7 linked regions of the Homo sapiens genome follow. The protein of the gene in region 1 purifies or fractionates together with the protein of each later gene. This does not show direct contact. Each region holds a gene or a part of one and is shown on either strand. Other genes may lie near its edges.

Region 1 (4,030 bases):
TGCCTTGTAGTTTTGGTTAATGTCACTCTGCCCTGTAAGATGGAAAGCCAGGTTTGAACTGTGGTAAATCTACCACTTTGCAGGTTCTCTCTAAAAAGGCAGCCAGTAATCTTTTCTTTGGTGGTAATTTCCTTTTTTTTTTTTTTTTTTTTTTTTGAGGCAGAGTCTTACTCTGTCGCCCAGGCTGGAGTGCAGTGGCATGATCTCGGCTCACTGCAACCTCTGCCTCCCGGGTTCAAGCAATTCTCGTGCCTCAGCCTTCGAAGTAGCTGGGATTACAGGTGGCGCCACCATACCTGGCTAATTTTTTGTATTTTTAGTAGAGATGGGGTTTCACCATGTTGCCCAGGCTGGTCTCGAACTCCTGAGCTCAGGCAGTCCGCCCACCTCGACCTCCCAAAGTGCTAGGATTACAGGCGTGAGCCACCGCGCCTGGCCTTTTCTTTGGTGGTAATTTCCTGATCTGTTGAAAGGCCAAAAGTACACTGTGGATTTTAGAAGTGATGTCTTTTTTTTAGTGATGAGGGTTTTTGGTGGTGGTGTTTGTTTTTTGAGAAAGGGTCTTGCTCTGTCACCCAGGCTGAAATGCAGGGGCACGATCTTGGCTCACTGCATCCTTCACTTTCTTGGGCTCAGGTGATCCTCCCACCTCAGCTTCCTATGAGTGGCTGGGACTGTAGGAGTGTGCCACCACACGTGGCTAATTTTAAAATTTTTCTGTAGAGATGAGGTCCTCACTGTATTGCCCAGGCTGGTCTTGAACTCCCGGACTCGAGTGTTTCTTCTGCCTTAGCCTCCCAAAGTGCTGAGATTACAGGCATGAGCTACTACTGCACCTGGCCTTTTTTTTTTTTTTTTTCTTTTTTTAAAAAGACATTTGTGGTGAGTAAGAATTGCTTTGGGGTTTATGCCCACCTGTTCCTCAGAGCTGGCTATGGATGATCTTATGAGTGAGTTGTCACTAATGTTTGTATCGGGACTGGAATTCTCAGATGGTTGCAAGTCATTTGAGGTCCCAGAAGTCCAGCATAGAGATAGGGAGATTGTGGGCAGATCTCTTGAGCCTAGGAGTTCAAGACAAGCCTTGGCAACATAGTGAAACCCTGTCTCCACCAAAAAATACAAAATTTAGCCAGGCGTGGTAGTGTGTGCCTGTAGTTCCAGCTACCTGGGAGGCTGAGGTGGAAGGATTGTTTGAGCCTGGAAGGTTGAGGCTGCACTGAGCCAAGATCATGCCACTGCACTCCAGCCTAGGTGACAGAGTGAGACCCTGCTAAGAAAAAAAAAAAAAAAAAAAAAAAAAGATGGTTTGGTGGAGAAATACAGTCTGATGTTGTAAATAGGCTAGATAGGGAGTGGCTACTAGGGTGAGAAGGAACTAGGCTGTTTGTTTACAGCCACTGGCAAGAGTTGTTGCAGCAGAACTTTTAGTCCATAGTCCTGACTCTTAAAGGATGCTTCAGGAGTGAGCACCTAGGGCTGGCATATGGACAGGTGTCCCAGAACAGCATGGTTTGGCATCACCTCCTCCAGTCCCTGCCACCGGGGAGCTTTGCCCGATGGTTTACAGTTCAGGCATAGGAAGCTGCATTGATTACAGTGATCACACAGACATCCTTACAGTATTGGGGGGTGGGTTGGGGTGAAAATTAGTGGTTAGATAGTAAGTGTTGTTGCCATGGATTCGGGAGATCAGATATACTAGCCCTAAGGAATAACCCATACATAGTTCTTGTGTTGAGTTGCATTAGGTTTGTCCACTGGGCCTGTCATGTGACCAGTAGAGAGTAGAGTGAGCAGCCGTGGGTTTTCTAGGCCAGGAGAGGAGGAGCCAGCATGTAGCTTGTGTAGTCTCCTTTTAAAGATGCTCTTTGCTGAGGTGCCTTTTGCACTTAATTGAAATCAGCTGGAGTGAGATGTTTTCTTAAGTCATATAAGATACATAGTAAGAACTGAGAAAGCAATTTTCTTTTATTTGAACCCCTCCACCCGTCACTTCAAGATAGGCTATTTGTGTTTGTAGCTAGCTGTGCTGTTCTCTTGGATACCCGTGATTTTAGCTGACTCAGGTTCTCAAGTCTGAATATATTGTACTTGCCTTTCAGTGACATGCCAACCCAATTTCCCACGGGGCAGGTGGAGGCGTTTAATGTTAATTGGGGAAAAAAATCAATATAAGTCTTTTAGAATTATTCCTTTTTTTCTTTTTGGAGACAGGGTCTTGGTCTGTTGCCTGGACTGGAGTGCAGTGGTGCGATCTTGGCTCACTGTAACCTTATACCTTGTGGGCTCAAGCAATTCTCCCACCTCAGCCTCCCAAGTAGCTGGGACTACAGGCACATGCCAACATTCCCAGCTAATTTTTTTTTTTTTTTTTTTTTTGTATTTTTTTGTAGAGACGGGGTTTCGCTATGTTGCCCAGGCTGGTCTCAGACTCCCACCTCGGCCTCCTAAAGTGACTGTTTTTGTTATGAAGAATTATCGGCCGGGCCTGGTGGTTCAGGCCAATAATTCCAGCGCCTTGGGAAGCTGAGGCTGGAGGATTGCTTGAGCTCAGGAGTTCAAGACCAGCCTGGGCAACATAATGAGACCCTGTCTGAAAACAAAGAAAAACACAATGAGATACTACTTCACATGCACATAAATGGCCATAACCAAAAAGACAAATGATAACAGTGTTGTTGAGAATTTGAAGAAATTGGAATCTTCATACATTGCTGATAGCAACGAAAAATGTTCTAGGTCTTGAACTCCTGGGCTCAGGTGATCTTCTAGCCTCAGCCTCCCAGTTAGCTGGGATTGCAGGCACATGGGCTCCTTGTGATTTTGATTTGCATTTCCCTATTTAATGATGATACTGAGTGTCTTTTCATGTGCTTATTGCTCATTCCTATAGCGTCTTTGGTTTAATATCTTTCCACGTCTTTTGCTCATTTTTAAATGGATTGTCTTAATATTGATTTGCAGATGTTGTTTGTATCAGGTCCCTTATTGGATATCTGCTTTGCAGATATTTTTTTCTATTCTGTGGCTTGTCTTTTCACTTCATTAGCAGTGTCTTTTGAAATCACGAGTCTTTAATTTGATCAAGTTCAGTTTATCAATGTTTTTCTGTTATTGCTCATGCTTTTGCTGTTGTATCTGAAGAGATTTTTGTCTAGCCCAAGGTCACGAAGATTTACTCCTGTGTTTTCATAGAAGAATTTTATAGTTTTAACTTTTACATTTAGGTCATTTTTGTTTTACATTTTGAGGTCATTTTTGTTTAAAGTGTGAGATGTCCTAAATTCACCTTTTTGCATGTGGATACCCAGTTGTTTCGGTACCTTTAATTGAAAAAAACCCTTTCTACATTCTATTGCCTTGGCAATTTTGTCGAAAATTAGTTGACCATAAAAGTAAGGGTTTGTTTCTGGACTCTTAATATTTTTCTATTGATTTATTTTTCCACTGGGCTATCGTTATGTCATTACCAGACTGTCTGGATGATCATATCTTTGTAATACATTTTGAAATCTGGACTGTAAGTCATTTGACTTTGTATTTCTTTTTCAACATTGTTTTGACTATTTTGAGTCCTTTGGATTTCCATATACATTTTAGGATACAGCTTTATCGATTTTTGTAAAAAAGACAGCTGGGATTATGATTGGGATTGCATTGAATCTGTAGATTTAATTGGGGTGATGGTGGTATTGCCAGCTTGACAATATTGAGCCTTCCAATCCATGAACATGGAATTGAGTTTTGAATGTTAAACCAAACTGGTATTCCTGTACCATTTGGTCATATATTGCTGGATTTGGTTTGCTTGTCTGTTCTTATGGAGACTCTGGTAGTATCAGAGTTTAGGTCTTGGGGTGGTGAGGATGAACATTTTAACATGTTTAGTTTTAAAGTATATTTCATTGAACCTCCCTTCTTCAGTGGTCTTTGAAGAGTTTTGAGTGCAATCACCATTGAATTTCTGGCTGGCTTAGCTGTCTTATTTATAAAGTTATTTTAGGCACCAAGAAATTTCTAACTGCAT
Region 2 (3,745 bases), on another chromosome or scaffold:
GGACTTTGCACCAGTGCACCGCACAGCACCCACCACACCATCTTCTCATCCTGGAGGCTGATGAGAGAAAAGATGTTTATCCCCTCACTTACTGACCCTTCTTGGAGTTTGAGAGGAACTTGTGTCTGGCATGGTACCAGCACTGTCACTTTGTACTTTTGTTTTCTTTTATTCTGTTAAGTTAGTAAAAATTCAGACATCTCAGAGGGGTGTGTGTGTGTGTGTGAGTGTGTGTATACACATATATATGTAAGTGAAAAAGGAAAGTTCCTTCTCTTCGTCCCTTTCCTGCTCTTCTCTCCTGAGAGAGAAGAGTTATTGTGCTTATGTAATAGATGAACTACTGCTGTATGTATCATTTTGTGACATAATAATCTGTTTTGGTTTTCCTTTCATATCAGCACAGAGAACTCTTTCTTTTTGATAGCTGCATAGCGTCCCACGGGATGTTTGCACCATAGCTGATTGAGTTTGACCCTGGTTGGTGGACTTTTAGATTTTTTCTAGTTTTTCCCCCATCAGACATGGCTGCAGTGAGAACCCCTTATTCCTGTGCAAGAATGAAGCAGAACAGATGAGTGGAATAGTAGAATGGATGTGTTTATGAAACAGTGATTGGGCTGGGCGCGGTGGCTCGCGCCTGTAATCCCAGCACTTTGAGAGGCCAAGGCAGGTGGATCACAAGGTCTGGAGTTCAAGACCAGCGTGGCCGATATGGTGAAACCCCACCTCTACTAAAAATACAGAAATTAGTCGGGCGTGGTGGTGGGCGCCTGTAGTCCCAGCTACTCGGGAGGCTGAGGCAGGAGAATCGCTTGTACCCGGGAAGCAGAAGTTGCAGTGAGCCGAGATCACACCACTGCACTCCAGCCTTGGTGACAGAGCGAGATGCCATCTCAAAAAAAATAAAAATAAAAAAAGAAACAGTGAATGACTCTGCCACATTGACCCACCAGTTTACTCTCCCATCAGCGGCACCTCTTTTACACACCTTTACTTGAACACTTAGTGCTAACAGACGGTGTGACTTCCCCTGTGAGATCCCTTAAGAGCTAGGCAGTGTCAGATTTTCCTGATGGACTCTGAATAACTTTTCTCTGAAGAGCTTAATACAGCTGCTCCTAGCAGAAGACCTGCCGTGCGACCCTGCTTGGTACCTGTGTGTTGAATGGCAGAGAAGGCAGCCCCCAGGGAGGTCCTGCCAGTAGTCACCATAAGTTTGGAGCAGGAAGGTGGCGGAGCTGCAGTCTGATAATGAGCAGGCATTTGCTAGGTGGGGGATTCTGAGAAGTAAGTAACGTGGTTTCTGCCCATCCGAAACTTCCAGGCTGGCAGAGGAAGCTTGTTTGTGCAGGGGACCGCAGAGCTGTAGATGTTCATGCACAGTTGATTGTGTGGCTCTGCCCCTGTTCTGTGGCAACTCTGAGAGGGGAAGCTTTTTGAGGATGGGAGGGACCTTTTAATGAGGGATCTGAACTGGAGATTTGTATAGGAGCAGCGACAGGGACCTGCAGTGAGTGCGGTGCCAGCAGAGAATGTGCGGAGCTGCCCCTGCCCACTTCAGCTTCCTGGGGGCCCATTCCTGCCAGCAGCTGCTGAAGCTTGGGAAGGAGGCCCTTAGGAGATGCAGGGCTAGATGGCACGAAACGGGGACTCTTCCCAGCTAGCTGGGACAGGAAGCAGCGAATTCAGAGAGGCATCAGCTCCTGGGAGGACTGAATTGCTGGGACTCCTCCGAAGCCTTTAGATGTCGCCTTGCTGGGAATAGCTGGAGGGGCGGAGAGGCAGTAGCTGCCAGGTATCAGAAGGTTTTGGGAGCGCATGCTCTGCGGCTCTGGCTAGAGGGAGTGGCAGTGGGTGGATATGGTGAGCGGCACTTCCAGATCCCCGACCGACCCTCAGGCCTACCTTGGCCCTCGCAGACCAGACAGCCCGTGGGGGCTGCTGGCGTTTGCAGCGAGGGAGAGACTGGCCACTGACGCTTCCCGTTTTTGGTGGGTTTCCACCTCCCTGAGATGCTCCAACCATGTCTTTCTGGTTCTCTTTCCAGAGGCACTGGGAAAGGGACAGCAAAGCAGAGTGGGCAGCTGAGACCCTCACATCCTCATTAGGAGGAGGGAGACCACAGCTCGATGAGGCAGCAGAGGGATGAAGGGGGAACCCAGCCAGTGACAGGTCTGGTTGGGATGCCCAACTCCACCTCCTGCCCCCACAGATAGACCACTACTGTGTCCACTGCCCCGGCCTAGTCCAAGCCACTACCGTTCTGTCCTGGGATTTCTGGGACTGCCCTCATCTGTGATGGGGGTCTCTGTGTCCAGCTCTGCCGCTCTCCTGCTCCCTCCCTCTAGTCTCCCTCCAGAACTCCCTCCAGTCAGTTCTCCATGTTTTAGCTGGAGCTGCCTTTATAACATGCGAATCGGTTACCTCTCTGTACTTAAAACCCTTCCATGGCTTCACTGAGCCTTTTACAGGTTCTGAAGCAGCCATCCTGGCCTTTTTTAGAGTTCCTTAAGCCCACCATGCAGCTCTTGTCTCCGTCCTCTGCCAGCAGGGCCCTTCCCTCCCCTGGCTAACTTCTCTTCAGCTTCAGGCCTTAGCTGAATTGTCGCCTCTTGTCCCTCTTCCCATAGCGTCCTTCGCTCCCGCAATGGGGTCCTAGTCACATTGCATGTGAGTTGCTGCTCATGCCTGTCTCCTGCATGGGACTGAGCCCTGTGGGTGCAGGAACCACATGGCTCCTCTGTTATTCCCCAGCGCCTTACTGGGGCACCTGATGTGTGTGGGCAGTCACCAAACAGTGGCAGGTATTGACCAAGGTGTAGGTTCCCGGCAGGCTGAACTGCCCCTGGGAGGTTGAGGGATCAATCACCAAACCCCAGGAGGGAAGGGAGGAGAGTGAGGAGGAAAGTCAGGACTTGTCTTCGGTGGTCGGTCTGCCTCTCCTCACACCTTCTCCAGTGATTCAGAGAGTAGATTTGGGGGACTGAGAAGATACACAAAGGACAGAAACTCATGCTTCAGAGATGCTGATGTCATATAAGTAGTTTCCCTGTCTGGCCTTGGATGTTTATATACATATGTGTTGGTAAAAAGTGTTAAAAAGGAAAAAAATTTCCCATTCTTGAAGCGGACAGATGAGTTTTCTTTTCTATAAGGTAACTGGTGACATGTATTTCTTTTTTTTTTTGAGACGAAGTCTGGCTCTGTCGCCCAGGCTGGAGTGCAGTGGCACGATCTTGGCCCACTGCAATCTCCACTTCCCAGGTTCAAGCGATTCTCCTGCCTCAGCCTCCCGAGTAGCTGGGACTACAGGTGTGTACCACCATGCCTGGCTAAGTTTTTTGTATTTTTAGTAGAGATGGGGTTTCACCATGTTGGCCAGGCTGGTCTTGAACTCCTGACCTCAAGTCATCTGCCCACCTCAGCCTCCCAAAGGGCTGGGATTACAGGCGTGAGCCACTGTGCCTGGCCAATCCACAGACATTTCTAGTTGATCTGGGGTCTCCAAGGGATCCTACCTCCCGTAAGGAACTGGGCCCATTTCGAAGTTGCGAACAATGGACAGGGAGAATAAAAATGATGAAAGAAGTAGAAGCTGGCATTTGTTAGCCTTTATTCTGTGCCAGGCCTTGACTGAGCAGAACCTAGCACATGAGGGGAGGGCACTCTTGTGACTCTCATTTTCTAGAGGGGCAAATGGAGGCTCAGAGAAGGCTGATGACCTGCGTAAGATCATGTAGCG
Region 3 (4,030 bases), on another chromosome or scaffold:
AGGAAAAGATTGTCCAAGTGCTGTGTGCTGCATAATATCTATACTTTACGTGTAGGATGAGAACTGAAGAGTATGTTAACTTTTCTGTTTAACACCAGATCCTCATTTACCTGTGGAACAGACCCTTCACTCGCTCCTCGCAAGCTGAAGTTAGGGTGCCTAAAATACTTCATAGATTACTCGTAATCCTTTTTTTTTTTTTTTGAGACAGATTTTTGCTCCTGTCACCCAGGCTGGAGTGCAGTGGCGCTATCTCAGATCACTGCAACCTCTGCCTCCCGGGTTCAAGTGATTCTCCTGCCTCAGCCTCCAAAGTAGCTGGTATTACAGGCACACGCCACCATGCCTGGTTAATTTTGTATTTTTAGTAGAGACAGGGTTTCACCATGTTGGCCAGGCGGTCTTGAACTCCTGACCTCAGTTGATCCACCTGCCTCAACCTCCCAAAGTGCTGGGATTACAGGCGTGAGCCACTGCACCTGGCCCTCATAATTCTTTAAAATGAATATTCATAGAACTCATTTTTCCAGCAGTTGAATTCAAACATCAGTTTACTACTAAGTAGTGCCTTAACTCAACCAGCTTTTACATTTTCACCATTTTATGTTCTTGGGCAACAGGTCTAAACTAATCAGACAACAGGTTGGCTCACAGTACATACTCTGCGAATGCACTTTCTTTGATGAAACACTCGAAGGGGACTCCCATTTTTTGTTTTACTTATTTGAAAAATACTGATTTCATGCCCAGTGCTTTCCATGGCTGTACTAAAACTCTCACAATAGGTTATTTTGAGATAACTAAGAATAGGTCAGTAGTGACTGTTTCATGAATTGAGATGACATGTTAATATTTGTTTTTTTTCTTTGAGATGGAGTCTCGCTCTGTGGCCAGGCTAGAGTGCAGTGGCGCAACCTCAGCTCACTGCAACGTCTGCCTCCTGGGTTCAAGCGATTCTTGTGTCTTAGCCTCCTGAGTAGCTGGGATCACAGGCGCATGCCACCATGCCCAGCTAATTTTTATATTCTTCGTAGATACTGGGTTTCACCATGTTGGCCAGGGTGGTCTTGAACGCCTGACCTCAAGTGATCCACCCTCCTCGGCCTCCCAAAGTGCTGGAATTACAGGCATAAGCCACCACACCCGGCCATGAAATTAGTTCTTCAGAAAAACTTATCTTTGAATGGTAGATATGGCTTATTTCTACCATTTTCACTTTTTTCCTCCTGCTTTATTAGCTAAAATAACACGCAGGCTATGAGACCACTACTTTAGATATAGATGTAATTATTGATTATTATACCACTTAATCTAGTTATAGCGGATGCTCTGTCAGATCTTACCATGTCATTGAATTGTTTTAGGAATTAACTATTTAAAGTTTTGGTTTGGACAGATAGTAGGTTTTAATTGAGCATCTATTATGTGCCAGACACTGTGAGGGATACAGTTCCAAAGAAAACCCACAGTGCGACCAAATAGTTCTCGTATGAAATTTGCAGTGTCTGTAGTCCCACCTACTCGGGATGCTGAGGCACGAGGGTTGCTTGAGCCCAGGAGTTTGAGGTTGCAGTGCTGTGATTATGCCACTGCACTCCAGCCTGGGTATCAAAGCAAGACCCTGTCTCTTAAAAAAAAAAAAAGAATCCCTTCAGAGAAGGAGTTTCGTTCTTGTTGCCCAGGCTGGAGTGCAATGGCGCGATCTTGGCTCACCACATCCTCTCCCTCCTGGGTTCAAGTGATTCTCCTGCCTCAGCTTCCCGAGTAGCTGGGACTACAGGCATGCGCCACCACGCGTGGCTAATTTTGAGTTTTTAGTAGAGACAGGGTTTCTCCATGTTGGTCAGGCTGGTCTTGAACTCCCAACCTCAGGTGATCCACCCACCTCAGCCTCCCAAAGTGCTGGGATTACAGGCATGAGCCACCGCGCCCGGCCAGGTTTTTTTTTTTTTTTAAACATCTGGGGATGATAATGGTACCTATTATTGTTTTGAGAATTGAGGTAATTATATAAATCACTTAGCACCCTGTCCCTGGCTCTTACTAAGCACCCAATACTCAGCAGAGAGGGTGTTTAGTGGGGAAGAGGGAACTATTTAGACAACACTGTGCAATTTGCTATAGTGCTATGGAGTCTTAGGAAGGTGATGAGAAATTATTTTCTTTAATGTGATGGCATATATAGAATAAATTTTGTTTTTGTTTTTGTTTTTTGTTTTTTTGAGACGGAGTCTGGCTCTGTCACCCAGGCTGGAGTGCAGTGGTGCGATCTCAGCTCACTGCAACCTATACCTTCTGGATTCAAGAGATTCTCCTACCTCAGCTTCTCAAGTAGCTGAGATTACAGGCATTCATCACCATGCCTGGCTAATTTTTGTATTTTTAGTGGAGACAGGGTTTCACCATGTTGGCCAGGCTGGTCTCAAACTCCTGACCTCAGGTGATCCACTTGCCTCGGCCTCCCAAAGTGCTAGGATTACAGGCATGAGCCACTGTGCTTGGCCAGAAGAAATTTTTAAAATTGAAACTGATGTAGTTGATAACTTTGTCTAAATTGGCAGTTTACCTGGGCGGTCGACAATTGGGGTAATATGTGCTTTGGGTGACTTTCACTTTGTGGTGACTGTTGCATTCTGCATTGTCCATTATGGGAGGCTCATTAAAAGTTGGAAGAAGGCCGGGCGCGGTGGCTCACGCCTGTAATCCCAGCACTTTGGGAGGCCGAGGCGGGTGGATCATGAGGTCAGGAGATCGAGACCATCCTGGCTAACAAGGTGAAACCCCGTCTCTACTAAAAATACAAAAAATTAGCCGGGCGCGGTGGCGGGCGCCTGTAGTCCCAGCTACTCGGGAGGCTGAGGCAGGAGAATGGCGTGAACCCGGGAAGCGGAGCTTGCAGTGAGCCGAGATTGCGCCACTGCAGTCCGCAGTCCGGCCTGGGCGACAGAGCGAGACTCCGTCTCAAAAAAAAAAAAAAAAAAAAAGTTGGAAGAAATAGGCCAGGCTTGGTGGCTCATGCCTGTAATCCAGCACTTGGGGAGGCTGAGGCAGACGGATCACGAGGTTAGGAGATCGAGATCATCCTGGCTAACACGGTGAAACCCTGTCTCTACGAAAAATACAAAAAATTAGCTGGGCATGGTGGCATGTGCCTGCAATCCCAGCTACTCGGGAAGGCTGAGGCAGGAGAATTGCTTGAACCCGGGAGGCGGAGGTTGCAGTGAGCTGAGATCGCGCCACTGCACTCCAGCCTGGGTGACAATGTGAGACTCTGTCTCAAAAAAAAAAAAAAAGTTGGAAGAAATAATAAACACTTGAAACTTTATGATTATTCAAATGATACATGTTCATTTTAGAATATCTGCAAAATGTAGGCAGGTGGAAATCTAAGTGACACTTTTTAATGCTAAGCTCATGGAATATCTTATTGTATAATACTTAAATCTGCATGTTGAAGGGTGACAGGTTTGGCACAAAGCAGAGTTTCATAATCTTTACCAAATCATCTTCTCAGTAATGTAGCAGTTGGATATTGCCTTGTTGGATGCTGGCCCTGTGTATTATCCTTCATCCTTTTCGGAAGTCAAGCTCTTCAAATTAGATGGCAGATAGTAGAATGGTTTTTTTTTTTTTTTTTTTTTTTGAGCCGGAGTCTTGCCCTGTCTCCCAGGCTGGAGTGCAGTGGCGCAATCTCGGCTCACTGCAACCTCTCCCTCCTGGGTTCAAGTGATTCTTCTGCCTCAGCTTCCCAAGTAGCTGGGATTACAGGCATGAGCCACCATGCCCAGATGCCTGGCTAATTTTTTGTATTTTTAGTAGAGACAGGGTTTCACCATTTGGCCACGCTGGTCATGAACTCCTGACCTCAGGTGATCTGCCTGCCTCGGCCTCCCAAAGTGCTAGGATTACAAGTGTGAGCCACGGTGCCCAGCCTAGAATGGTTATTAATTCCTCTGTTGATTCAAGGCACCACTGAGCAAGCAGATCTACCCATATAGTGGTTACATAGAAAGGATAGTGAGTGAACTCT
Region 4 (4,030 bases), on another chromosome or scaffold:
TTAGTTTTTTAAAATGGATAAATAATAGTAGTTTTCATAACCAGATTTAATTTGAAAGCTTAAATTATATAGTACTTTGCTGTGACTTTTTAGTTTCTTCAACCCTGTGTTAACACTTCATTTTTCATTGTAAAATATCTCAAGAAACTTTTAAATATCTGTGTAATAAGTAAAAAGTAATGTACATGTAATGTATGATGCTCATGTGGAGTTCTTCAAGCTCTTCCTACAGAGATAAGGAAAGAGGGAAGCCTAGGAATATCTTTCCACCCACTTCCTGATCCTTATACTCCCAACTGGGTACCCAGGGCTAACGTCCTTGACCAGACTCCAGGCACCAGCTTGCATCCCTTTCTTACATGCTCATCCCCAAGGCTCATCAAGCCTTGAAAGAGACAGAAAAGAGAATGGAAAGTAACAACCAGAGACAAGAAGAGGGGGTGGAATTTGGCAGCAGGTGGAAGAGGTTTTGTCTGCATGTCTGGTTATGAGGTGCCTCCATCCTCCTTGACCCATCAACAACTGAGTAATGGTTCATATGTACAGGTCACAAGTAGTCCTAGATTGTAATGTGATCCTGCTTATATTTTGCACACTTTATATATCTGCTGGCATTTTGTTAGGTCTCTAAATATATAAACTCATAAAATTATCATACTTAACATGTTTTAGAAATGCTAGTACCATAACACGGAAAAAAATAAGATGTACCTGCTGGTAATATAAGCATTCATAAGCAGATATAAGCAGAGTCAGTAAGCACAGAGGTTAAGGACACAGACTTCGGGGCCAGGTTGCCTGGGTTTAAATCCCAATTCAGACAGCTTGCTAGATGAGTAACCAGGAATAGTTTTCTCATCAGCAAAATCGAGATGATAGCACTACCTTACAGGGTTGTAAATTTTAAACAAGTTAATCTGACTATAAATATTTAAAACAATGTCTAATACATAGTGCTTTATAAGTATTTGTTCTTGTTAATATACCATGCCACCTTTCTAATGCTGTTTCTTTAGATGGCTCAATCTGACTTGTAATTAGTAGGTTACATTTATACTAATACCACAACCTTTAATGTATAACCACTGGATAGCAAATCCCCCTTCCTCAGTAGTTTTAAAAAGCAAGATGCTTATTTTTTTTCCTCTTTCCCAGGCCCAACACAGAGATACTTTCATTGAAGAACGCTATGGAAAATATAACATCAGTGATCCTTTAATGGCTCTACAGAGAGATTTTGAAACACTGAAGGAGAAAAATGATGGCGAAAAGCAGCCAGTCTGCACAAATCCACTCTCTATTCTTAAGGTTGTGATGAAGCAGTGCAAGAACATGCAGGAGCGCATGCTGTCCCAGCTGGCTGCTGCTGAGAGCAGGCACCGAAAGGTAGGTTCACCTCAGTTGATGTGTAAATCTTTGTGAAGTCTTTATAAATTATGCCTGATACTTTCTTGTCAGCTGCCAGTTTTTCACAGTAATTCAATTGGGACATCTCACGGGTATCAAAAAGCCCCTTAGTTTATGTAAGAGCCAGGAGATAAAAAAGAAAACACAGCTTATTGCAAATGTTAAGTTTAGAGAACGTGCCAGACACGTTATTTAAGACAGCATTTCTTCTTGATATGTCACTCCAAAACACTTTGTATGTTTTTTCAGTTCTTGATCATTCAAACTTTGGGGTTTGGCCAAGCTTGTAGCTGACGGGAGTGTTCTCTATTTGCTTACTTAAGAGATAAATAAAAAGATTAACAGGTATTTGAGGCATGCTATATCCAAGGGAGAGAAAGAATTTACCTGAGGATAAACACAGAAGCCAATAGATTATTTTCATTTATTCCTATTATTCCTAGTTTTGAGTTTCATTGCATTTTGTTGCTCATGAAACCATAAACAGTCCCTTGGTTTATTTACCTTAAAGGTGTTCTACTCTATTAGTGAGGGGTGTGTGTGTGTGTGTGTGTGTGTGTTTTCCATATTTAACAAGCCCTAAAATAGGAAGGCAAACCTTATGGTTATTTACAGTATTTACTTTAAAGCTGTTCTACCCTATTAGTAAAGAGTGTGTGTGTGTGTTTCCATTTCTAACAAGCCCTAAGAAGGCAAACCTGTGCTTTCCTCTGCTTCATCTTACTGGAATTCTAGTGCTTGTGAATTTATTCACCAACTTGTCATCTTGTCATTTACTCCTCAAATTTGGCCTGTAAAAGATGCTTGGCTACAATCTTCATTTTTAAAACACTGTCAGTTTAGATTTATGCCAACAAGGCAGTTATCAGTGCATTTGGTAGGAAACATTTTCATCTGAAAAATAGGGTTAGCAGCTGCAAAATTTGGTGGACCTTACTTTTATGGTTATCAGCATTAGAGCCATCTTCTTAAATTGCATCTGATACATTTTCTAGGCTCTGGATCTTGCCCGTGATCTTTTCTTTCCCTTCACAGAAGCCAAATGAAAGGCCAGAGTGGAACTTCTTAACCATGGATAGGCCTCAGATGTTCCACAGTCCCCCAGAAAATAGACAGAATGTTCAGAGTTTATGCATTTTTGTAGGAAATGTATTTTTTCCATAGCTTTAATCAGATTCTCCAAGTTACCCAAGACCCAAAAATGTTTAACCTCTGGTTAGAATGAAGTAATCTGAAAACATTTACACTCCAATTTAAAAGGTATCAGTGGGTGGGAGTTAGTTGCCTAAATTGGGTGGAGGGGGAGCTTTTACATAATTCTCTAAAAATCTTCACAACATTCTTGTTTAATAGGCAGGCTTTATTTCCACTTCATCCATGAGGTGACTGAGTTGTGTTGAAGCTAGTTGGGCTAGCTTTCATGCCCATGGAAGGTGTACTAGGGACAGTTTGTGTTTCTAGGTGATTGGAGAGAGGAAGAAGTTAAAAATAATTCAAAATTTCTTAATACTATATTGCAGTGCTAAATGTTTTAAGTGAATATTAAATTTTTGAAACAAAGTACCTATCTATTCTTTTTTTTTTTTTTTTTGAGGTGAAGTCTCACTCTGTCACCCAGGCTGGAGTGCAGTGGTACAATCTTGGCTCACTGCAACCACCACCTCCCAGGTTCAAGTTTAAGTGGTTTATCAAAGTAGAAGACTGACTTTGTTAGAAATCAAACAGTACCTAGAGGCTTATAATTAGGGTGCTCATAGTCTCAGCTTATGCCTGTCACCTTGGCTTAGTTATTAACCATATTCCCTTTGACTGTCAGAAATGTTCTGGTTTGAATAATAAATTACATGGTCATTGTGCTTACAATGAAAAACAGTTTTCTATTCCACCTCTTCTCATTCCCCATCCTCCCCAGTATTCACAGGCAACCAGTTTTTTCTTTTAGCCATTCACTTTGGTAGCTAACCTCCATATTTCTAAATACTGCACTGTTCTCTCTTGCTTTATCAATTTTAGACATTTATATTACTTTCTTTTATATAGGTGCAGATTTAGTTATCTTACACCCCGCCTCCCTTTCCTCTCCTTAACCCTTACCCAGAACAAATTTAATCCTCTTTTCCCACCACCATTCTCTGTCACATCTACTATTCCCAAATCCTGAGCCTGTCACACTATTTCTTGAATGTGACAGGCTCAGGATTTGGGAATAGTAGATGTGACAGAGGCCAGATGCTGATGGTCTGTGTGCAGGAATCAGGGTGAAGGGACAAATAATTCTGAAAATACAGGCTTTGAAGGCCAGACACAGTGACTCATGCCTGTAATCCCAGCACTTTGGGAGGCCAAGACAGGCAGATCACTTGAGGTCAGGAGTTCGAGGCCAGGCCAGCCAACATGGTGAAACCCCATCTCTGCTAAAAATACAAAAATTAGCCAGGCATGGTGGCGTTCCTGTAATCCCAGCTACTCGGGAGGCTGAGGCAGAAGAATAGCTTGAGCCCAGGAGGTGGAGGTTGCAGTGAGCTGAGATCACACCACTGTAATCCAGCTTGGGTGACAGAGCAAGACTGTCTCAAAAAAAAAAAAAAAAACACAAAACAAACAAACAAAAAAACAGGCTTTG
Region 5 (4,030 bases), on another chromosome or scaffold:
GAGATGGGGGAGTCTCAGCATGATAGAGTAATGAGAGCCAGACATAGGTACTTCAGAAAATGCTTAGTTTTAACACCTCAAAGCACTTTTTAGCCCAGGCAAATGGACCACCTTATTCAGTAACCTCTTTGTCCTGAATAGGCTTGAAACCAGAAAGTTACATGCTCTGCATGGCTCCTGAGGGTGGCCACTCTAAGGTACCTGAATAGAGATTGTGTGATTCCTGTTCTTCTCAAAACATTTAAGGGGCCATGAGACTTATACCAAGAAAATAAAGGGGGGGGGGTTAGCTTTTTGCTGGAGGAGATGCGTAGTATTTTTTCTGCAGAAGGTAACAAGAAGAATATTGTGTATCGGCCTTGTCCATTGATATCTGCTGAGAGGATTTGGGGGAGAGTAGAACAAAGACTGATATTTCTTGAGTGAACTTCTTATTTACCTAGCTCTTTACGTATGCTGTTTTTTAAACTTTCGCAGCAAGACTGGGAGGTTCCCTCTATGTAAAATGAGGGTATGTAGAGTACCTATCTCAGAAGGTTATTGTGAAGATTATATGATGTAATTTATTTCAGACATTTAATATCATTCTGATATTATGGAAGACTGAGATCCTAAAAGGAAAACTGATCTGCTTAAGGTCACACAACTAGCAGTTGACAGAACTGAGATGCAACCTAGTTTTTCTGACTTTCAGGCAGTGTGTTTTTCACAAGACTAAAACATGCTGCCTCATAGAAGGAGGAAATGCATTTAAAGTATCAGACAAAGGAAATAGGTCAAATCTCATAGATATCACTGAGATGTTGCTTAATTGGACTGATGGCATTTGAAAGAGGAAGAAATAAGTATTAGTAAGGGATTTATTTCTGTAAAAACTCATGATAGCCTAGTTGTGAGCAATTGATGGGGGAATCAAAGAGGACTAAAAGGGATATCATTGCTATAAACCAATAGTTCCTAATACTTCAGCATTATCTAGTGGCACTTCTTAAAAATACAGATTCCTGGCTGGGCACGGTGGCTCACACCTGTAATCCCAGCACTTTGGGAGGCCGAGTTGGGTGGATCATGAGGTCAAGAGATCAAGACCATCCTGGCCAACATGGTGAAACCCCATCTGTACTAAAAATACAAAAATTACCTGGGCATGGTGGTGTGCGCCTGTAGTCCCAGCTACTCGGGAGGCTGAGGCAGGAGAATCGCTTGAACCCAGGAGGTGGAGGTTGCAGTGAGCTGAGATCCCACCACTGCACTCCATACTGGCGACAGAGTGAGAATCTGTTTCCAAAAACAACAACAACAACAAAAAAACCACACCCAGATTCCTGGGCCTTACCGTCTAGAGATTCTGATTTTGTAGGTCAGGAGAAGATTGGGGGGATCTTTTCTTTTTGCTGTTGTTTTGAAAATCAGTAACCCTGAGTTGAGTCAGATACAACCACACAGGCTTATAGACCACCCAGATAGGTTGAAGGTTTGGGTGCTGCTTTCCCGTCACAGATGATGGGGATGTTGCAGCCTTTGAGGTTTGAAAAGGCGAGTATCTAATGCATTCTTTTTATTTTTTATTTTTTTTAAAAAAAGACAGAGTCTTGCACTGTAACCCAGGCTAGAGTGCAGTGGCATGATCTCCACTTACTGCAACCGCCACCTCCTAGGTTCAAGTGGTTCTCGCGCGCCTCATCCTGCCAAGTAGCTGGGATTACAGGCGTGTGCCACCATGGCTAATTTTTGTATATTTAGTAGAGATGGAGTTTTGCCATGCTGTCCAGGCTGGTCTCAAACTCCTGGACTCAAGCGATCTGCCCATCTTGGCCTCCCAAAGTTCTAGGATTACAGGTGTGAGCCACCATGCAGCCCCTAATGCATCCTTGTCTTGCCATTTGTTTCACCTTTCAGAGAGCAGAGGGTTCTAGAGAGGAATTAGTTTGAGATGTGTTTATAACCAGTTAGGAGGATTTGGGTTAATGATGTGAAGTTTACATTACTTTAAAAGTGGCTATGTTCTCAGCCTGGGCAACATAGTGAGATCCTGTCTCTACTAAAATTTTTTTTAAAAAAAATTAGCCTGGCATGGTAGTGCATACTTGTAGTCTCAGCTACTAGGGAGGCTGAGGCAGGAGGATCACTTGATTCTGGAAGGTCAAGGCTGTAGTGAGCCATGATCATGTCACTGTACTCCAGCCTGGGCAACAGAGTGAGATGCTGTAATTAGCTATGTTCTAATATTAAGTGTAGAAATCAGAAAAGGAAGATAGATAAGTACCCCAGCGTTAGAAAGATTGAAAGAGCTAAGTCTGTTAGTCCACGGCTAGAGACTGAACAAAAATGTGATAAAAGAAGGCTGACGGATTCTGCAGTTTGAAATTCTGATGAATAATTTGTCAATCCTAGTGATGGAGAGGCACAAGCAGAACCCCACGTGATTATCCTTGGATTTCCCTGATTTTAAGTAAACATAGAAGATGGAAGAAAGGCAGCCAGGCGCAGTGGCTCACGCCTGTAATCCCAGCACTTTCAAGACCAAGGCAGGAGGATTGCTTGAGCCCAGGAGTTGGAGACCACCCCGGGCAATATAGTGAGACCTCATCTCTACAAATGATAAAAAAAAATTAGCTGGGTGTGGAGGCATGTGCCTGTAGTCCTAGTTACTTGGGAGGTTGAGGTGGGAGGATTGCTTGAACCCAGGAGTTTGAGGTGGCAGTGAGCCATGATTGTGCCACTGTACTCCAACTTGGGTGATAGAGTGAGTCCCTGTGAAACCTTTGAGAATGGTACCAAGAAGACCAAACTCCAAATAATGTTAAATTGTCCAAAATGTTGAAGTAAATTGAAAGAGTTGAAAACAAAATAATTAACTATTTGGAGCCAGATTATAAAGGATGAAGGGATAGTGTGCTTAGAATAGATAGTATAGTGATAATAGAAAGAAACAACATATTTTCACTCCCATTAACCTAATCCCACCATCCCCCCAACCCAAGAATAATGGCTTTAAAACAAAGGTTAGCAAAGTTGTGTTTGAGAAAGATGTGAAGATATTTAGCAATCACATAGCTCCTATAGACAAGTAGGCCTAAATACATTGTATGCCTGGATAGTGGCAAAACCTGTGGTTGTGATTTTTCAAATTGTAGAACATTGTGAAGCAATTGAAAATCAGTATGCAGAACTATTGGGTACAATTGTGCCCTGTACAGCTTGTACAGTTGCACATGGTAGTCTTGCATGATAGCACCAGAGATGATTGATGAGCAGACTTCCTGGTTTTAAGAACTGGAGAAGGTGTTTTTGGGGGATTTAGCTATTAAATTTGATGTTGTGCTTTAGCAGAATTCTTAGATGAGTTTCAAAGGCTAATCAGCCTCTGAAAAGATTGTGTATGGTTGTGTAAACCTAGAAGGATGTATACAGAATGTGAAAAGTGGTTCCCTTCTCTGGGAAATGGGGTTTAGGGATTTAAAAATTTTTGCTCATCTACACTTTATAAATTTTCTATAATGAACATGAACTAGATATGTTTAAAAGGGTTACCAAGCAGCTAGTGTCAACATGTAAGTGAAAAATTGCAATACAACTTTATGTAGTAAACCCCAGCACGGGAACATGAAAGCAGCCATACCCTCCTCACCTTATTTCCTTTTTGGATAAAGTTACCAGGCTAGTAGGTAGGTCTGAAGAATGATGTAAATAGATGGTAATATCATCATCTGCTGATTTTTCCAAATACCTCCGAGGACAGAATAGAGAGATATGGACTGGGCAATGGCACATATAGATGACTACAGACCGGATGTCGCAGTGTGGGTGCCCTGGGCATATTGATGCGGCATCAGTGCTAGCTTGGAGGGAAATATTATAATAATAGGTACTAATAGCTAGTGTCATGGGTGCTGTCCTTGGTTCTGACCCGTTTAACGTGTTTGCCAACATGGTTTAACATGTTTGCCTTAGTACTTTAGCCCATCATGCAGGTCTGGTGTGGAATACCCACTCTTCTGGGTGTGACAAAAATCAGAATTCTAGAGAC
Region 6 (4,030 bases), on another chromosome or scaffold:
AAGGCACCCCTGTCTTCATGCCTGGGCAGGCAGCTGGGTGAGTAGGGAAATCCAAGGAAGGGAGAGAGGGCTGGAATTTTGCTCCTACTCACCCTCCCACAGGTCACTCTTGTGCCATGCGCACATGGCTTACTGCAGGAGCGCTACGGGAAGGTGTGTGGTGGGAATCCCATGCAGAGAGAACAGCAAGGACAAAGACCCCGAGGCAGGACCATGTTTAGGAAACTCCGGGCATCCAGCGAAGCTAAGGGAGTAAGCAGGATCAAAGTAGGAGACAAGGTCAGGCTCCAGGTTCACTGACACCAAATGTAGTTCTAATAAGATCGTTCTTTAGCTCTTTAGAGTTTTCAAAGAACTTTCTTTCATATATAATTTTATATGATTTCCACAACAACTCATCATAGGAAGCTCAAAGATGTTACATTACTGAGATAGGTAATACAATTAGCAAACATGGGGGCTTAGAATTTAACTGAAGTCCTCGGTTTTCAGTACTTTTCATGATACTTTACCTCAGAGATTAATAATTTTAAAGCATTAAACCTTTTTTAAAAATATCACCAATTCCATCACAGAGCTGTGTTTTTACAAAAATAGACCTTTCTGATCCCTGTGCTGTGATTTAAAGCATCTGGTTATTGTTCTCTTTTTCTGTAGTTAACTTCAATAGACTTTAAAAATTCTCTATTGTTGTAATTTAGATGTCTTTATAAAGCCATTTACGTCTATTTTCTCATTTTAATGTGTCTTTAAAATATTTCTTATCACAACACTTTTTGAAAATGTGGCGTTTTTGCTAACCCGAGTTATGTAATTGTTAGAAAATTAATAAAAATCTCACAAAAAGCATTTCCTTGGTGAAAAGAAAATTCTGTATATTAATCAGGGTTTTCCTGTGAATTTCTTTCAGCTGGAAATGGAGAAGCTTCAGCTACAAGCCCTTGAGCAAGAGCACAAGAAGCTGGCTGCCCGCCTTGAGGAAGAGCGTGGCAAGAACAAGCAGGTGGTCCTGATGCTGGTCAAAGAGTGCAAGCAGCTCTCAGGCAAAGTCATAGAGGAGGCCCAGAAGCTCGAAGACGTAATGGCCAAACTGGAAGAGGAAAAGAAAAAGACGAATGAATTAGAAGAGGAACTCTCCGCTGAGAAACGAAGAAGCACAGAAATGGAAGCTCAGATGGAAAAACAACTCTCTGAGTTTGACACTGAGCGGGAACAGCTTCGTGCCAAGCTGAACCGGGAAGAAGCACACACCACTGACCTCAAAGAGGAGATAGACAAGATGAGGAAAATGATTGAGCAACTGAAAAGGGGAAGTGACAGCAAACCAAGCCTCTCTCTTCCACGGAAGACAAAAGATAGGCGTTTGGTTTCCATATCTGTGGGAACAGAAGGAACTGTGACAAGGTCTGTTGCATGCCAGACAGACCTAGTGACAGAAAATGCTGACCACATGAAAAAGTTGCCTTTAACCATGCCTGTAAAACCTTCCACAGGGAGTCCCCTAGTTTCTGCAAATGCAAAAGGGAGCGTGTGCACCAGTGCCACCATGGCCAGACCAGGTATTGACAGGCAGGCTTCCTATGGTGACTTGATTGGCGCTTCTGTACCCGCTTTCCCACCTCCAAGTGCAAACAAAATTGAGGAAAATGGACCAAGCACTGGCTCAACACCAGATCCAACCAGTAGCACACCCCCACTTCCCAGTAACGCTGCCCCTCCCACCGCTCAAACACCAGGCATAGCTCCTCAGAACTCGCAAGCTCCACCTATGCACAGTTTACATTCACCATGTGCCAACACCTCTTTGCATCCAGGTCTAAACCCACGAATCCAAGCAGCTAGATTTAGATTTCAGGGCAATGCTAACGACCCAGACCAAAATGGAAATACTACCCAAAGTCCTCCGTCAAGAGATGTCTCGCCTACAAGTCGTGACAACCTAGTGGCCAAACAACTAGCTCGGAATACTGTGACCCAAGCACTGTCAAGATTTACAAGCCCTCAAGCAGGTGCTCCCTCAAGGCCTGGAGTGCCCCCAACAGGGGATGTTGGCACCCACCCTCCAGTTGGTCGGACCAGTTTAAAGACTCATGGTGTAGCACGAGTTGACAGAGGAAATCCTCCTCCTATCCCTCCAAAAAAGCCAGGGCTCTCCCAAACTCCTTCTCCACCACACCCCCAACTCAAGGTTATTATAGACAGCAGCAGGGCCTCGAACACAGGGGCCAAAGTTGATAACAAAACTGTGGCTTCGACTCCTTCCAGTTTGCCACAAGGGAACAGGGTGATCAATGAGGAGAACCTTCCTAAGTCATCCTCCCCTCAGCTGCCACCAAAACCATCCATAGATTTAACTGTGGCACCTGCAGGCTGTGCCGTTTCAGCCCTGGCCACGTCTCAGGTGGGTGCCTGGCCTGCTGCAACCCCCGGACTGAACCAACCTGCATGTTCAGACAGTTCCCTTGTCATTCCTACCACCATTGCCTTTTGCTCTTCCATAAACCCCGTTAGTGCCTCATCCTGTAGACCAGGTGCCTCAGACAGCCTCCTGGTAACAGCATCAGGTAAAGGGATTGAAATGTTATACGCTTTTTAAAGAATATGGCCTCTCTTCTCACTTGCCTTGATTTTCTTCACATTGCCTTGAAACTTTTTTTTTAAATTTGATGCTTCCCCCCACCCCCATTTCTTTTCTTTCTCTCTCTTTTTTTGTATTTTTTTTAAAGGCTCCAGGGTATGGTGATTCATCTTGCTATATGAATTGCGGTTTCGCTATGCTAAGTGCTTTCTTCATTTAAGATAACCTGAAAGTAGTGGCTTAAAGCACATGGAGACCATTAATTTAGAGAGACTAAAATATTTACATGGGAGAAAAGAGTATTCCTTCTTATTAAATATTTATCTCGCAAGACCTCAGTGGGTCATGATCAGACAGTACGTGTTCAATTCTGTTCCTTCTGAGATGACATTTTTAAAGACCTTTCAAGTAATTATTAACACTATGTTGGATTACCAAATTGACTAGATTTGTTCCGTAATTGGTATATTTTAAGTTCTAATATCAGTTTGGTGTTTTCGGTTTTTTTTTTTTTTACCTTCAGAAATGGAGTGTGAATATTTATAAATCTGTTCTAAGTTTAGTTTATTTCAAAAGCCATGTACCCTATTTAGTGCTGCCATCTTCCAACACTCGGGCACAGATGGTTAACATAGCATGTGGGCTATGTCACAGAAGGTTTCCACTGCAGGTGTGGCTTATGAAGTCACTGAATCTGGGACTCTTGAACAAAGAAGAGGTGGATTTTTCCCTTTTGTTATACAGTGCTAGAGAAAGCATTGCTTTTTACTGACATGACTGGATTAGTTATTTACTAAGCAAATGTGGCTCTAAAGTAATGTTACCAAAAATACATAATTGTAAATGGCAGAGACTGGATTCCAAACACATCTGACTAACTGCAAAGTCCATGCTGTTTTCAATTCCCAATTTTACCCCTCAAAATGTGGATGACAAAGTTCTGTTGACACTTTGAAGAAGTCTCTCCTACCATGGGATCTTAGTGGTTGGTGGAGATTGTTGGTTCAAATGGGAGAGAACTTTTATAATTACAGGAAGGTTTGAACAGTTGTTATATTTAATACTTTGAGGGGAGAGAGAGAAAAGCAAATAGCATCATATTTGCTAATTATCAGGTGATGACAGCAGTACACTAGGATTTATTTGTCCAATTATAAGCTATCAACTTGAAATTAAGGTCTTTGAGAGGCTTTATCCATATTTTGAGGGGCGAAATAGGGAATTGGAAGCAGCATGGACTTGGAAGTTAGATCTATGTTGAAATCTAGTCTCTGCCATTTACAATTGTGCATTTTTGGTGACTTCTTTTGCTACTCATATGGGGGAGGGTGGCTGTTAGGAGGATTGGATCCTATAACCTGTCAGCTTGGTATTGAGCTTAGAATAGCATGAGTAATCAATAAATAGAGGTGATATTACTGCTTCAATGATATTGTTGCTTACAGTATTTTT
Region 7 (4,030 bases), on another chromosome or scaffold:
TGACAAACTTGTTCATACTATCTGAATAAAGCATGTTTTTAAGTTTGATATATCCCTTTAATTTTATGAATAAACTAGTTAACATGTATTTCCAGGTTACTGATCCAGCAAAATTATAAGAAACATTAAAATTCTCTGAAAATTTCAGTTTTTTCCCTTTTTTCAAAGAGAAAAACAATTATAGGAGACTTCTCCTGGCTTCACAGTTTCTGGATGCTGTGTTTTTGTTAACTGTAACACTTTGAAATAGCATTTGCTAAAAACCTTTTTTCTTTCTCTCTTTTTTGGTGATGTGGCAGAGAGAAAGACATTGAGATGTTCCTTGAGTCCAGCCGCAGCAAATTTATAGGTTACACTCTAGGCAGGTGAGTAAAAGCCGAGTTCATTTTGCTGTTAGCTCTCCCGGCCTTTGGTGTTTGGGATCCCAGGTGATTTGATGTCGAGGCTCAACACAGGGCCTTCTTTATTCTCCAGTGACACGAACACAGTGGTGGGGCTGCCCAGGCCAATCCACGAAAGCATCAAGACTCTGAAACAGGTGAGTGGCTTTGGGTGAGCTTTTGGCTTGTTTGGTCCTAAGTGAGTAGAGTGAAACCAGCCTGTAGGGAGAAGCCTTTTAAGACTGTTGTCTGCCTGCAAGAACCTGGGGTAGAGGCCGGGGTGGACTTTGCAATAACCTTGCAAACAGTCTTTCGTAAGTTTTGCTTGTTTTATTATAAGTTTTACTTGTTTTAGCTGAGCTTTTGTTTGGGACTGACTGGGAAGTCTTTAAAGATTATATTACCTGACCACCGGGCACCAAGGCATGCACCTGTAGTCCCAGCTACTCAAGAGGTTGATGCAGGAGGATTGTTTGAGCACAGGAGATCAAGGCTACAGTGAGCTATGATCATGGTCCTGCACTCTAGCCTGGGCCACAGAGTGAGACCCGGATTCTTTAAAAAAAAAAAAAAAAAAAAAAAGGATTATATTACTTGACAGTTGTTGAAATTCTAAAGAGCTCAATAAATAGCCCTCCTTTTCCTTGCCCACGTTCTCAGGCGGTTGAAATAGAGGAGTAGGCAGATGGAGATTGTAATGCCAACTTTATAGCTCATAGAGCCATGGAGAATGAGGCTTAAGAACACAGCAGTAGTGTCCTAATACGTTGTTCCAGAATTAGGCAGAGTTACCTACCAGTCCCAGGCAGTGTGGGGAGGCTCTGCCAAGCTTGGTGGCGGGGAGGAGAAGAGAGCAGACTCTCAGCAGGCAGACAGGTTCTAAAGAGAAAAGAGAAGGGTGAGGACAAGTCCGCCCTGTGTCCCCTCCCATACTCTCCGATCAGAGAAGGGAGGAGTGAGTGTGTGGACGGGGCAGAGAGAGATGAGGGGTGTTTCGCAAACCCCTGTCCCTCCACACGGGAGAGAACATTAAGAGTGGGGAAGAGGCATCTCCCCTAACAGCTATCTGGAGTGAAACTGTTTTTATGTTTTTGAAATATATTTTTGGAATTTGTAGTACTAAGTGGTCTCTCTGCAGCTAGGCTTTTTGAGTACTTGATTTTGCTTTCAGTTTTTCTCCTGTTGCTGTAGCTATCTGAAAGGCCATTTCCCTCCTTTAATTTACTTTTTTCTTATCTACCATGGGCTTCTTACTGTAGTTGCAAGAGGAAGGGGCCCTTTTAGAAAAATATTTTGGGGCCAGGCATGGTGGCTCACGCCTATAATCCCAGCACTTTGAGAGGCCAAGGTGGGTGGATCACCTAAGGTCAGGAGTTCAAGACCAGCCTCACCAACATGGCAAAATCCCATCTCTACTAAAAATACAAAAATTAGCCAGGTGTGGTGGTGCACACCTGTAGTCCCAGCTACTTGGGAGGCTGGAGCAGGAAAATTGCTTGAACCTGGGAGGCGGAGGTGGCAGTGAGCCAAGATCATGCCACTGCACTCCAGTCTGGGCAACAGAGGAAGACTTCATCTCAAAAAAATAAAAATAAAAAATATCTGGGGTTTGGGATTTTAGCTAGGGATTTTTGTGGTGACTTAATCCTCTTTCAGAAGACTGTGTTTGAAGACAAATGTGTGGGGATTTTGCTAGAGTGCAGGGAGTTTGGCCAGAGAATGTTTTCCCCAGCCCTTCTTTTCCCATCTCTCCCACCAGCACAAGTACACGTCGATTGCAGAGGTCCAGGCACAGATGGAGGAGGAATACCTCCGCTCCCCTCTCTCAGGGGTAAGTTGGAGGTCCTCAGTCCGGGCGCGGTGGCTCACGCCTGTAATCCCAGCACTTTGGGAGGCCGAGGAGGGCAGATCATGAGGTCAGGAGATTGAGACCATCCTGGCTAACATGGTGAAACCCCGTCTCTACTAAAAAAAAAAAAATTAGCCAGCCGTGGTGGCGGGCGCCTGTAGTCCCAGCTATTCAGGAGGCTGAGGCAGAAGAATGACGTGAACCCGGGAGGCGGAGCTTGTAGTGAGCCGAGATAGCGCCACTGCACTCCAGCCTGGGCGACAGAGCGAGACCATCTCAAAAAAAAAAGTTAGAGGTCCTCTTCAGCCCCCGGGATCCCCAGCTCTTCCCAGGCATTGTGCTGGGATTAGACCACAAGGTTGCCCCAGGCCCTGCCCTCAAAGAGCTCCCAGTCCACCTCCCAGTGCACAGGCTGAGACACGTCTAGTGCAGGGTTAAGAATACAGACTGAGTCAGGAACCTGCCTCTGATGCCTGGGTCCACCACTTTATGGATGGCAACTTAGGCAAGTTACTGGGTCTCTCTATGCTTTATTTCCTTGTCTGTGAAATAGGAATAATAATACCTTTATAGGGTTATAATAATAAGGATGAACTGAGTTATTACAAGTAAAATGCTTGGCACATTGTTTGTGTTCAGGGTTTGCTGTTATCATCATTAACATCATTATGTACATCACTGTTTACAGGTTTTCCTCCAGCCAGCTAGGAAGCTGGCTCAGGAGATTGTATTCTGGGCTGGGGTTTTATGCTTGTACTCATTATGTTAAAAGGGAGAAGAAGAAGTTGAGCAAGTCCCTGCAGAAACCCTCTACCAAGGCTTGCTCCCCAGCCTGCCTCAGTATATGGTGAGTGGTGCCTGCAGTGGGACACTCCCACTACACTGGCCTTAGAGCAGGCCCTGCCGTCCTCCTGCCACCTGCAGACCAACAGGAGGACTGCTCAGAGCTTAATTTTGACCCTGGGCTCTCAGACCTGTGTCTGAATGGTCTACTCTTCCCAGATTGCCCTCCTGAAGATCCTGTTGGCTGCAGCACCCACCTCAAAAGCCAAAACAGACTCAATCAACATCCTAGCGGACGTCTTGCCTGAGGAGATGCCGTGAGTATCATTCTGTGAATGAAGCAGGTGGGGCAGAAGATAGATGGAGAAGGGCAAACATTTTCCTCTTGTCAGGTTGGTTGTTGTTGGCCCAGCTCTACAGGTTAAATGTAGGTATTTTTGACCCAAAAAAAGGAAACTACGAGATTAAAGAGTTTCACTGGTTGGGGAGATGGCTTGGTCCTGTTGGCCTGGATTCTAGTGTAGACTCTACCACTGAGCAAACTCCTGAGTGAATTGGGGAAAGTCATTTCCTCCTCTGTAAAATGAATGGGGCCACCCTGGACATTTCCCCAAAGCCCCACTCTCCAGCTGTGATTGAGACACCCAGGATGAGGAGGGTTAGTTTGTAGACAGCTTGCCAGCAACAGCTGAACCTGTGCCAGGTATAGAGACATCCCTTTTCGCCAGTGATTGGGCACGCAGAATGCTGGCAAATGTCTCAGGGCGATAGAGTGAGATTCTTCAGAGCTCTTCTGCCCTGTGCCCTGTACTTGTCTTTCATGTGAGAGTCCAGATTGAGATCATGTTCTACTTTGAGAAGGACCTGGACCTTGACCTGATCTTCTGCCTGCCTGGGCCACCAGCCCTGAGCCCAGCTCCTGGGTGGCTGTGGCCCCGGAGTATGGCAGTGATGGCCGGCTGAGGGAGGAGGCAGGGGTTGGCTAACACCAGAGGGAGGATCACAGAACACTAGGCCA

What was found.
Region 2: the proteins of ZRANB1 (region 1) and STRN4 purify together in Homo sapiens (affinity purification with mass spectrometry; 4 studies listed by BioGRID and IntAct, with this or other methods). This does not show direct contact.
Region 3: the proteins of ZRANB1 (region 1) and SLMAP purify together in Homo sapiens (affinity purification with mass spectrometry; 3 studies listed by BioGRID and IntAct, with this or other methods). This does not show direct contact.
Region 4: the proteins of ZRANB1 (region 1) and CTTNBP2NL purify together in Homo sapiens (affinity purification with mass spectrometry; 4 studies listed by BioGRID and IntAct, with this or other methods). This does not show direct contact.
Region 5: the proteins of ZRANB1 (region 1) and FBXW11 purify together in Homo sapiens (affinity purification with mass spectrometry; 3 studies listed by BioGRID and IntAct, with this or other methods). This does not show direct contact.
Region 6: the proteins of ZRANB1 (region 1) and CTTNBP2 purify together in Homo sapiens (affinity purification with mass spectrometry; 3 studies listed by BioGRID and IntAct, with this or other methods). This does not show direct contact.
Region 7: the proteins of ZRANB1 (region 1) and STRIP1 purify together in Homo sapiens (affinity purification with mass spectrometry; 4 studies listed by BioGRID and IntAct, with this or other methods). This does not show direct contact.

The regions. Positions count from the first base shown.
Region 1 is NC_000010.11:124,976,434-124,980,463, forward strand, and holds part of ZRANB1 (ubiquitin thioesterase ZRANB1), read left to right. Parts: intron 1-4,030. UniProt on the Homo sapiens protein: Ubiquitin thioesterase, which specifically hydrolyzes 'Lys-29'-linked and 'Lys-33'-linked diubiquitin. Also cleaves 'Lys-63'-linked chains, but with 40-fold less efficiency compared to 'Lys-29'-linked ones.
Region 2 is NC_000019.10:46,739,734-46,743,478, reverse strand, and holds part of STRN4 (striatin-4), read left to right. Parts: intron 1-3,745. UniProt on the Homo sapiens protein: Calmodulin-binding scaffolding protein which is the center of the striatin-interacting phosphatase and kinase (STRIPAK) complexes.
Region 3 is NC_000003.12:57,759,091-57,763,120, forward strand, and holds part of SLMAP (sarcolemmal membrane-associated protein), read left to right. Parts: intron 1-4,030. UniProt on the Homo sapiens protein: Associates with the striatin-interacting phosphatase and kinase (STRIPAK) core complex, forming the extended (SIKE1:SLMAP)STRIPAK complex.
Region 4 is NC_000001.11:112,447,787-112,451,816, forward strand, and holds part of CTTNBP2NL (CTTNBP2 N-terminal-like protein), read left to right. Parts: intron 1-1,155; coding exon 1,156-1,386; intron 1,387-4,030. UniProt on the Homo sapiens protein: Regulates lamellipodial actin dynamics in a CTTN-dependent manner. Associates with core striatin-interacting phosphatase and kinase (STRIPAK) complex to form CTTNBP2NL-STRIPAK complexes.
Region 5 is NC_000005.10:171,901,846-171,905,875, reverse strand, and holds part of FBXW11 (F-box/WD repeat-containing protein 11), read left to right. Parts: intron 1-4,030.
Region 6 is NC_000007.14:117,789,662-117,793,691, reverse strand, and holds part of CTTNBP2 (cortactin-binding protein 2), read left to right. Parts: intron 1-910; coding exon 911-2,564; intron 2,565-4,030. UniProt on the Homo sapiens protein: Regulates the dendritic spine distribution of CTTN/cortactin in hippocampal neurons, and thus controls dendritic spinogenesis and dendritic spine maintenance.
Region 7 is NC_000001.11:110,044,541-110,048,570, forward strand, and holds part of STRIP1 (striatin-interacting protein 1), read left to right. Parts: exon of another isoform or gene 1-147; intron 148-299; coding exon 300-365; intron 366-474; coding exon 475-538; intron 539-2,139; coding exon 2,140-2,211; intron 2,212-3,001; coding exon 3,002-3,076; intron 3,077-3,231; coding exon 3,232-3,329; intron 3,330-4,030. UniProt on the Homo sapiens protein: Plays a role in the regulation of cell morphology and cytoskeletal organization. Required in the cortical actin filament dynamics and cell shape. Part of the striatin-interacting phosphatase and kinase (STRIPAK) complexes.